Homo sapiens: one gene and its partners. The protein of the gene in region 2 purifies or fractionates together with the protein of the main gene of each other region. This does not show direct contact. Each region holds a gene or a part of one and is shown on either strand. Other genes may lie near its edges.

Evidence for each region.
Region 1: the proteins of ARHGEF4 (region 2) and PPIL4 purify together in Homo sapiens (affinity purification with mass spectrometry, with the first as the bait; one large-scale study listed by BioGRID). This does not show direct contact.
Region 3: the proteins of ARHGEF4 (region 2) and BPGM purify together in Homo sapiens (affinity purification with mass spectrometry; one large-scale study listed by BioGRID and IntAct). This does not show direct contact.

What each region holds. Positions count from the first base shown.
Region 1 is NC_000006.12:149,514,965-149,518,614, forward strand, and holds part of PPIL4 (peptidyl-prolyl cis-trans isomerase-like 4), read right to left. Parts: intron 2,487-3,650; coding exon 2,390-2,486; intron 2,053-2,389; exon of another isoform or gene 1,993-2,052; intron 1-1,992. UniProt on the Homo sapiens protein: PPIases accelerate the folding of proteins. It catalyzes the cis-trans isomerization of proline imidic peptide bonds in oligopeptides.
Region 2 is NC_000002.12:131,035,770-131,039,419, reverse strand, and holds part of ARHGEF4 (rho guanine nucleotide exchange factor 4), read right to left. Parts: intron 568-3,650; coding exon 388-567; intron 1-387. UniProt on the Homo sapiens protein: Acts as a guanine nucleotide exchange factor (GEF) for RHOA, RAC1 and CDC42 GTPases. Binding of APC may activate RAC1 GEF activity. The APC-ARHGEF4 complex seems to be involved in cell migration as well as in E-cadherin-mediated cell-cell adhesion.
Region 3 is NC_000007.14:134,656,739-134,660,388, reverse strand, and holds part of BPGM (bisphosphoglycerate mutase), read right to left. Parts: intron 2,296-3,650; exon of another isoform or gene 1,679-2,295; intron 1-1,678. UniProt on the Homo sapiens protein: Plays a major role in regulating hemoglobin oxygen affinity by controlling the levels of its allosteric effector 2,3-bisphosphoglycerate (2,3-BPG). Also exhibits mutase (EC 5.4.2.11) activity.

The DNA of each region.
Region 1 (3,650 bases), on a different chromosome or scaffold from region 2:
TAGCTGGGATTACAGGCATCCGCCACCACGCCTGGCTAATTTTTTGTATTTTTAGTAGAGACGGAGTTTCTGCATGTTGGCCAGGCTGGTCTTGAACTCCCGACCTCGGGTGATCTGCCCGCCTCGGCCTCCCAGAGTGCTGGGATTATAGGCATGAGCCACTGCACCCAGCCAATTTTTTTTTTTTTTTTAAGAAAAAAAAAATGGAGACCGGGTCTCGCTATATTGCCCTGGCTGCTCTCAAACTTCTGGGCTCCAGCAATCCTCCCACCTCGGCCTCCCACACTGCTGGGATTACAGGCATGAGCCACTGCACCCAGCCTATTTCTTAAATGATGGATCATACGAAAGAAGACAGCACTCCCATGAGCCACTGCACCCAGCCTATTTCTTAAATGATGGATCATACGAAAGAAGACAGCACTCCACCTCAGCCCTCCTATCTCCCATATTAGTGTCACAGCTTTAATGCCACTTTTTTCAGTGTTGAGGGTATTCTCTAACCTCTCGCCCCCTATTATGAGTCCCATATCTCTTTGCAATATTTATTTGCAATAATTTAGACGTATTTAGAATGGTAATTATTTAATGTCTGGTTTTTTTTCCCCACTCCAACAGCAAAATGTAAGCTCTATGTGGGCAGGAACTGAATATCTTTCATTGCTAAACTGAGTATGTGACAGATGCTTACTAAGTATCTGTTGATTACTTGTCATACCCTCAAGACACTTGTTGTATCTCCTGCTTCCTCACTTACCCACTATCTTGTACTTATCACTAAAATCAACACTTTCAGAAGACATCAAATCCCTCTCCCTTTGAATAAAACACAAATTTGTGAGCTCACTGCCATCTTTTCTCCAATTTCTTCCCTGAGGTCTAGTTGGGCCAAGTTATTTCCTTCTCCTACTTCTATTTTTGATTCTTCTTATTAATAATCTATACTTTCACTAATTTCTCTTTCTCTTAAGGCCCATAAAGTAGATGCCACCATGCCTTCTTAACTGACTTAAGACAATTTATCTGCACATCAGACTATCCCCTAACAGCATTTCTCTCTTTTGCATCAACTTCAAAAGGCTAGAAGCTACACTATTCCATATAAGTATATGTGTGGTTGTTTCAATTAATTAAAATTAAAGAAAACTTAAAATTCCCCTTCTTCCAGCTATAGTTATTAGTAATAAGCCTAAATTTAATTTCAAAGATTTGGTAAATAAATATCAAATGTATTCCATTCATAACTTTTATGATTTTGAGCTTTCAATCATATGCCCTTGAATGTTGATCTTTTCTGACCAAATCTCAGCTTCTTATTTGGTCTGTCTGCATGTGAAAGCCTCTCCTTATGCTGATTTTATCAGCTTTCTTCAGACTTTATCCAGTTCTAACACCTCACAATGCTTTATACATTGCAGACAATCAACACATCTTAAAACATGAATATAGACCAGGTCAACCTGATATTCATCTTTCTTGATGAGTACTTGGAAAAGAAATGTCTACATATGTAGAAAAAAAAATCCCTGAAATACCAATAGAAACTAGGAAACAAAGACACCATTTACCAGAAAGAATCACAACAGAAATAACTCTTGCAATGTGTGGAGTGATATATTTATAATGGGAAAAATTAGTGAACCAATTTAAATGTCATAATATAAACAGTATGTTTCATTACTTTTTACATGTCTCAACCTAAAACTTGGAAGAACCTGAAGTAAATGGTCAAGTCAATGGATTTCTTTTTAATCCTACAAAAGTGAACTCTTGCACTCAGTAGAAGCCCAATAAATATTTGTTGTTGAAATTACAATATACTATACCGAAAGAAGTAACCTAACATTGTAACAGAGAACAATAGGATTTTGTTATCTAGGTAAGGAAGTTAAACATAACAGCAGGTAGCACAAAGGAATCAGCTTAGCAATAATAAATTTCAGATTATGAGGAATAGAAAACATTACAATTACATATAGAAAATACAAAGCTAGTGTTACAGCTCTTTTAGAATTTGTCTAGTAGGCTTTCCGGTTTTTGCAGGAAAGCCCCCCCAAAAAGAAAATACAAATCTTACCTGAAGATCTTCTGAGAATATGATAAGTAGGAAAGTACTTAACCTAGAGTAGGAAAGTATTAATAAAAGAATTAGGCTACAGATTTCTTTCAACCTTAACTTTCTCCATACACTAGAGTATAGTGAAAAAGCAAAGTATATGTAAGATCTTGAAAAGAGATAATGATAAACTAAGTTACTTCCTCACAAACAATCTGGATTCAGGAAATTTGTCTTCTATAGCTTTTGTGACTTTTCATAACACATCACACAGTACTCTACACATAGCAGATGGTCAATACATATTAACTAACTGATTCTTGGTAAGGATACTCCTGTTTGGGCTTTACTTTATCTTTCAGAACCAAATTAGGTGGTTTATCCTGTTCTTTTTCATACTCCTTGAAATCACTCTTGGTGTATTTCCCACCTATTTATTAAGAAAAGAAAAAAAGAGCTTAGTAAAAAAACCACCTAACCAAGAACAATAATTATTTTATAAAAAGCATAAGAGCTATTTTATAAATGGCATATATCGAGAGACAGAGAAAGGGAACAAAAGAATCATAGTAATTCCATCTCCATTACTAATTTGAAATCAGACATCCATTTTTGCTAGGTAGCCACATGCTGCCACCTAACGATATATGTGAATATTACAACATCAAACTTTCAAATAAATTACACACAAATGCCGTGTTCAAGTAGAGCCATTGAGCCCATGAGAACATTAAGTCCAGTGGAAAACTGAGGATTTGGGACCTGAGTTTAAGATCTGAAAGACCTAAGTTTGAGAGAAGTGAGACTTTAAGAGACCTTTTAAAGATCTAACGAGATAGTGTGTGCCTGTAATCCCATCTACTCGGGAGGCTGAGGCAGGAGGATCGCGTGAACCTGGGAGGCAGAGGTTGCAGTGAGCCGAGATCGTGCCACTGCACTCCAGCCTGAGCGACAGTGCGAAACTCCGTTTCAAAAAAAAAAGATTTAACAAGAGATACTCTGCTAAATGGCAACAGAGCATCAGGCAAATAGAAGAGGGCAGGATGTGCAGAAGATCACCAAACAGCTGTGAGAGGAGAGGGTGGGTAATAGCACCAAAGACAAACTGTCTCTACTTTGAAATTCTAACTTAGGGGCAACTTCATTCCTCCCAAGTGCCAAAAATCCCCTCAGGAAAATAGGACCTACTGCTACATCCTAACTAGCTTGGTAGGGCTAGAAAGGAAGAGCATTCAATGCAGCCTCTCTACTCTCAACTCTAGTCTCCTATCAGATGAGAATTCAATTTTCAAGTCTCCTACCAGATGAGAATTCAATTCGCATCCATGTCCCAGACCTGTTGACTGCCCTGCCTTTCCTATCCCTCAACCACACCACTAGGAAATGCTGTTTGTAGAAAGGCTTCCTACAGAAGGGTCCTAGATTAAATGTAGAAGTAAAACAAACTGGAGGTACAGACAGAGGTTTTGACTGAGAATCCTATGTGTACCTTGATTGTCAGGGTTTTAAAGGGGGACCCATAGGGTAAGCAAAAAAGACAAGATCAATCTATTTGGCAATTCCAGAGACTCCAGAAACAAAAGTGGCCAGCAAT
Region 2 (3,650 bases):
CCGTGCCTCAACTTCTTCAGGTGTAAGTCATGGTTCCCACTCCCGGGGCTGTGTGTGAGGTGAGCAGTCCCCTATCAGTGCTCTTCAGGGCTTGGGAAATGTCTAGCGCCTGGAGTTGCGGGGGTATCGCAGAGGGGTGCCTAGTGTCTGCACACACTCATTTCTCGACTGCTCTCCTCTCTGGCCCCCGAGGGCTCACCAGAAGAGGAATGGGAGCAGGAGTAGTGGCTCTCCAGGAGGAGGAAGGCTGTGACACTGCGCCCCGACACCCACCACCCAGTGCTCTGCACCTAGGATGCCAGAGCTGTTTTGGGCTTGGATTTCTCTGCAGAACCAGGTAGCTTTTTATGGGCCCAACTTGGGAGAAGCTGGGGCTTGGAACCATACCCGAACGAAGCTGGCTGGAAACCAGCCCTCGCCATCGGCGACCCGGCCCCACCACCACTCTCTGTTGGTGGCATCCATCACTTCGATGACGTCCCCAGCTTTGAAGCCCAGCTCCTGGTCGTCCATGGTGACATGGTCCCAGAGTGCTTCAGCGCAGACCACACTGCCATCGCTGATGAGCTGCCGAGAGAGCCACGGGCAGGCGGGTCAGTGGGGGAGGCTGCCTGGGCCTCCCTGCTCTCTGTCTCCACTCCCTCAGCAGCCCTGGGAAGAGGGGATCCTGACTTCTTTACAGAGGAGCTGACAAGGCTGCCTCTGACAGGAGCAGGGCTTTCCTGGGGCAGGGGCTATGTTCTGGGCATGTCTAGATTATCAAGGCTCAGTGATGGAGCCGGAAGTGAACTGACCACAGAATCTGATCCTGTCACTGGGACTGCCAACTGCTCCCTGTTAGCATTCCCAATCCAGAATTCCTGGGGGCTGCAAGGCTGCAGGAGGGAGGGGCTGGGCACTGCAAGGCTGCAGGAGGGAGGGGCTGAGGGCTGCAAGGCTGCAGGAGGGAGAGGCTGGGCTGCAAGGCTGCAGGAGGGAGAGGCTGGGCGCTGCAAGGCTGCAGGAGGGAGAGGCTGAGGGCTGCAAGGCTGCAGGAGGGAGAGGCTGGGCTGCAAGGCTGCAGGAGGGAGGGCCTGGGGGCTGCAAGGCTGCAGGAGGGAGGGGCTGGGCGCTGCAAGGCTGCAGGAAGGAGAGGCTGAGGGCTGCAAGGCTGCAGGAGGGAGAGGCTGGGCTGCAAGGCTGCAGGAGGGAGGGGCTGGGGGCTGGTGCCCTCCTGTGGGCTTCTTGTGGATGAGCATTGCCTGTAAGGTCAGCCACCAACCACAATGCCCCTTCATCCAGGTAGACAGTGCCCTGCCATTGGAGTGATTGGAGCTTGTTTACTGTGTGTTTTTCAACACTTGCAGAACCAACCTCATGGCACCCCTGCTCCCATCCCAAGCCCCAGAGATGCCAGCACCAGCTGAGCAATGCCCCTTCTTAGAGCTCTAGGTCCCAAGCCCTGTGATCCTAAGTTTGAGTTAGTCCAACCTCTTCTCTTCATTTCCCAAGTTCTAGGAGAAGCAGAAACGTTTTGCAGCTGCTACCTCTGTGACAGGCACTTCAGGACTGCTCTTATGCAGTGTTACCCAGTCAACCACATTATACCTAGCCGACCATTCTTCACATGCTTCTCTCTGCTCAAATAACCAGCAGAGTGCCTTGCTCCAGAGTGGTGTGGACTAAGACACTGGACGCTCCCCTGCCTCTCCCAGGCAGCCCTTGTACGCCATGGGGCTGACCCCTGCTTTCTCCTAACATGGGATCTGTTTCTGCTCCCTGAATGATGAGCAGTTCTAGGGCCTTAGGGCAGGAGAGGAGGAGTGGGCTGGGGCTGCACAGGAGGTGAGGTCCACGACCCTCCCTGCTAGGACCAGGTGTTGGCACTGGCTGTCACAGCTGTGGGGGCGGTCAAGGATGGGAATGTCACAAACAGGCCCTCCTCTGAGCTCCCATCCCAGGAGCCCTCCTTTCACTTCACTGGGTACTCCCTAAGCACTGTGTGAATCCTCACCTCAACATGGAAACCAAGAGTGGGGCCAGTCCTGTGTTCCAGCTAAGAGGCCTCTGCCTGAATGGGCAGGGTGAGGGCTGGGGCTGGCCACTGGAGCACTGAAGCTCCAGAGCCTGCTTGGGATGGTGCTTTCCTCCAGGGGTCCTGAGCAAGCAAGTTCAGGGAAGGACAAACCTTCTCTTTCCTGGGGGTAAAACCTGCTCCAGTCCTGATGGACGCTCTCCTCAGAGTGACACATGAGCCTGTGAGCCCAGGAACCCTCACAGCGCGGCAGCCACGCGGGGGCTGCAGACCTCCAGAGGCCTCCACGGGGTCCCAGGCACAGAGCCCTGGGTTATTCCTGGGGGCAGCAGGCTTCCACAGGGGGCCACTGCTCTCATTCCCAGCCACAAAGACCTTCTGCAGGTGGCCTCCAGATCATGAGCTGCTGCTGCCACTCAGATGAGATGAGACAGGAGGGCTCAGGCGACCATATGGTAGGAGCCCACCAGCCACAGTGGGGAGCTGGCTCACCCCGCTGAGGCCCTGAAGAATGAGGCTCCAGGGAAAGAAGGAAGCAGACATGGCGGTCTGGGGACACCAGTGAGAGCGTGAGCTGTAGGTGACATGGCCCTGACCTGGGGTCTGTGACACAGGCTGTCAGGAGGTGACCCGACACACTCAACATGGCTCATTTTCCCACTGCTTCCCTTCTCAGGAGGTTCCTGCCTGATATTAACCAGGTGAGGTGTCACCCTCTGTCTCTAGGTTCCCTTAAATGAGCCCTGAGCAGAAGCCTGGTGCCCCCATTCCCCTTTCCTTTATGCTGCCTGTCCCTGCAGGTGGGACTGGGTCCGGCATAGGTGGCCCCCCACATAGCTGCCAGGGAAGGTCACCAGGTGTCGGGCAAGAGGAGGGCTTCACAGAGAGGCCAGCTTCCAGGCACCATTAGGGACAAGCCCCACACTTGTCCTGCCCAGTCAGCTGGAAGACCTTGGGGAGGAGGGGAGGAGGTGTTAATTGCCTTTGTCGCACCCTGGCAGAGGGACACGTGCCGTGAGCAAGCTCTCCTCCTGTGTCTCCCACCAATGTAAGGATGTCAGCCCCTTCTGCACAGCCTCCCACTCGGGAGGTACTCTAATTTAGAGTTAGGAGAAATGTGAACTGTTTGTGTTGTCACCAAGACAAAATGTGGCTCTGTGAGGTCAGAGACAGTTTCGTAGGACATCAGAGTCATGCTCCACCTCCGATGCTATTGCGCTGGGTGCGTTTCTGGGCAGAGGCCCTTTTTGGTGCTCGTAGGCACAGCTGCACCTGAGCCAAGACACAAGCCAGGCAGGCCCAAGGGGCAAGGAGTCCAGGCTGCCTCTCTGCCTGCAGGGAGCGGAGACTGACTCTTGAGACACAGCAGGGCTGTGAAACTGGCTGTTCTATTGTGGGAGAAGGTCCCAATGGAGGTGCACATTTGAGACTCAAATAGCCCAGGGCAGGGAGCGGGATCCCCTCCTGTGCCTCTGAGGTTCTGACAGCCTCCAGAAGGGCAACGCTGCCAGGCTCTGCCTCCAGCTACTCCCTGTGACCGCCACTGCCCTCCCCACCCTGCCCACCTACCAGACGTGCAGGGTGGGGGCAGCTGTGAACACCCGCAGTTTGTGCAGCAGGGGTGGGGGCTTCAGAG
Region 3 (3,650 bases), on a different chromosome or scaffold from region 2:
TTACACGCCCGGCCTCTCCATCTCTCCTCCAGTGTTTTGCACACTGGGTTGTAAAGATTATACGAGCACTACAGCCTGGTCTTCTGCCACTCTTGGCAACTTCCATTAACTGGAGATTTTCTCTCCCACTTAAACTGTGAGTCACCCACAGTAAAATAACAATCAATGGCAAAATTGATTGGAATCTAGATCTAGTTTCTACCTTTCTTTAGTAATTCCTAGAGATTCTGAAGGGAAAACAGTCTTTAAAATAAGGCTTTATATTTCAATGGAAGGCAAACAGAGGACTTAAGGAAAGAAATCAAATTGAGGTGATTTGCAAGTATCGTCATGTGTTGCTTAATGAAGGGAATATGTCCTGGCAAATGCATCATTAGGTGATTTTGTCGTGCAAACAACATAGAATGTACTTACACAAACCTAGATGGTATACATATTGTTACTTATGTTTTTTCATATGGAAAGCCAAGTATCCCAGCACAATTACTGAATATCAGTCATTTCCCCTACTCGATCTGCAATGCCAATGTCAAGTGCCACATATCAGATGTCTATATATGCTCCATTACCATCTTACAGGGCCACCATCATTTACACGATCCATGCTTGACTGAAACATCATTAGGTGGTGCATGACTGAAGTTGAAAGGCTACAGCAGTTAGGATGATGATTTTCCTTTCTTGTTAAGTACCAGGTTGCTGTGCATGTGCAGCAGGGAAGTGCCAGGGAACCAGAAGAGCCTGGGCTCAGGACCCAGATTAAAGCATCCCACAGAGCTGAGAATTCCCAAGGAGGAAGCCCAATGTCTCTGTCCTTAGCCTAGAAGAGGCATCAGGGTGGCAGAACAGAGAAGGGAACAAAAGGTATCTAGGCAGTGTTTTGCCAGATGACTGCCTGTGCCCAGGGGCAGAATAGTCATGAATCTAACAAAGTTCAAGCTTCAGAGCCCCTCACCTGTGAGAAACCAGGTGATGAACACACACACACACACACACACACACACACACACACACACGGAGGGGTGTGTGTAAGTGTGTTAATTTGCAAATGGAAGATATTTTTGCAGTGTTTCTTTACAAAGCCCCAATCCACCAAGTAGTAGAAGCCTCAGCTCCATCAAAAACTGTATCTACCCTTTGTAACCATTGATCATTTTGTTTTGTTATTGGTAGTGGAGGAGGGGGATGGAGAAAAAAGAAGCTATCAACTGTTCCTCTACCTTCACCCTCAGTTTATCTTGTCAAGTGAGAAACCTCCATAAGCTAATGAAGCCATTCTCTCTTCAGTTAAAGAAGGGCATGGTTAGACAAATTTTGTAGACAGAAGCACCTTTCCACCATCTTTTGATTATAAACTATATCAAGGGGACAAAACAATGTAGTAATAGCAACATGGACACTCAGGCACCCACCACCAAGCTTTGTGGTATCTTATTCTCCTATATTTGCTTACTGCATTAAAACAAAGTTCTGTTTTCTTTTTACTAAAAAAAAAATACACACACACACACACCAGAACAGAGGAACAGTACTGCAGTCACAAAAACTATGCAAATATGCATCCTTCCCTCACTCTGAAGCACAGGAATACATTTACGCAGGTGAATACATGATAAAGTACTAAACTAGTATGTCTATCTCAAGAAAACAAAAGGTCACTTTCCTCTCTCCTCCCTAGTACTATCAACGGACTTTTCCCACTTAACTGCTGGATACTTACAAAGAAACTGCTGAGGATTAGCTTGCAAACATAGAAACTTCAGTCAACATCCACAGGAGCTGATTTACCCAGTGTTTACCAAGAAACACACAACGCTGTAGCCAGTGTGATTTAAAGTTTAAGGCATGGATTGCAAACTCAAATGCCTGCAATGGGCAGGCAGCTGTGTGAAGCAGAGTGCAGCTGGACTATGCAGAGTGATGGGCACAGTGACCTGCAAGGACCATGCATGCTTCTTTGAAGGAGGCAACTCTTGTGTAAACAGAAAGTTTTCCGATAACCTCATCTCACTGAGCCAACAGCACTGTTCTTAGAACTTTTCTGGAAAACAAAAAGAAGATGGGATTGCTGACATCGAAGACTAGGATGAATGCAAGACTTAGAGTCAGACCACAGAGAAACTTTGAGTAAATAAATGTCTTTTTTAAAAAAGCTAAAACAATCATTTCAAAACCTCCTAAAAATTCATGTAAAAAATCAAAGGAGTACCTACTACTTAGCTCCAGCCCATTGCCCTGTGATACTGAGCAACTGAGGTTTCTAGATCTTCCAATTAAAAAAAAAATGAAAACGTGTATTTTTATCTGATATCTGATTTAAATATTAGCAACTAATGTATATTTGTAAAATGTGAGTGAAACAAAACATTTCTTCTGCAGGCTAGATCGTGGCTGCTAGCTTATGACCTCTGACTTAAAGGGAAACCTCCCCTAGGCCACAGATAAATGGTACAGCCACTATACCCCAGGAGACGGTCAGAACCCAAGCGTCTGGACCACTTAACCAGCTTTCCTGTTATTGCCCAACACAGCCTTTCAAAGGACAGACCCTCTAATCCCCATAATGCTCTGGGCTTCCTTCTCCCTGACCCACCTTTACAGCCCTCCCTCACCAAACCATTTGCTGGTGCCCTGCAGAATTCCTAGCTCTGTCCTCAAACTCCCACTCAGCTTTGAGTGTCAATTGCACTGAAAAAGATCTGAACTGAAAACGACCTCTTCCCAGGTGACACTGCTTCTCTCTCTAGTGGGGGGTGCTCATGCCTCATACCCTAGGGTTAGGTTCAGGTGATGGGCAGCGTCCTGCTTCCTCCACTGACCAAATCGCCCCTCCCCCACCATCCTAGGGAGTTGGGGAGCTTCAATGTTGAAAGTCTTGCTATATTCAGTTGAAGTTCTCTTGCCCTCATTTATTAACTGCAAACTAACAATTAAACTCCTTGAAAATTGAGTATCTTATTTTAAAACCTCAATTCTTCCTACTGGTCTTAGAAAATGTTCAGAATCCTTCATGTGACCTGCAAGGCTTTCGTTTTATTTCCTTGAGCATGTCAGGTTCTTTCTTGCCTCAGTAGTTTTGCACACACTGTACCCTATGCAGAACACTCACCCTTCATCTCTTCTCTCCATTGCCACTTCAGTCTCACCCTGCTTTAGGTTAAGCTCTAGTCATCCTTTAGATCAGTTGTGTCCAATCAAGATATAATGCGAGGCACAATGAAGTTTTAAATTTTCTACAAGCCACATGAATCCTATAGGTCCAAAAGCTATCATTCAGACATGGAGTCAAAGGAGATCATTTTGGAACTTTAAGGTGTAACAACTGCTCTATTGGATTTTGGACTTGCATGGGGCCTGCTGTAGCCCCTTTGTTTTGGCCAATTTCTCCCATTTGGAACAGGTATATTTACCCAATGCCTGTAGCCCCACTGTATCTAGGAAGTAACTAACTTGCTTTCAATTTTCTAGGCTCATAGGCAGAGAGGGCTTGCCTCGTCTCAGATGAGACTTTGGATTTGGACTTTTGGGTTGATGCTGAAATGAGCTAAGACTTTGGGCGACTGTTGGAAAGGGCATGATTATGTTTTGAAATGAGAGGACATGAGATTTGGGAGGGGCCAAGACCAAATTTCATCTTGAATTGTAGTTCC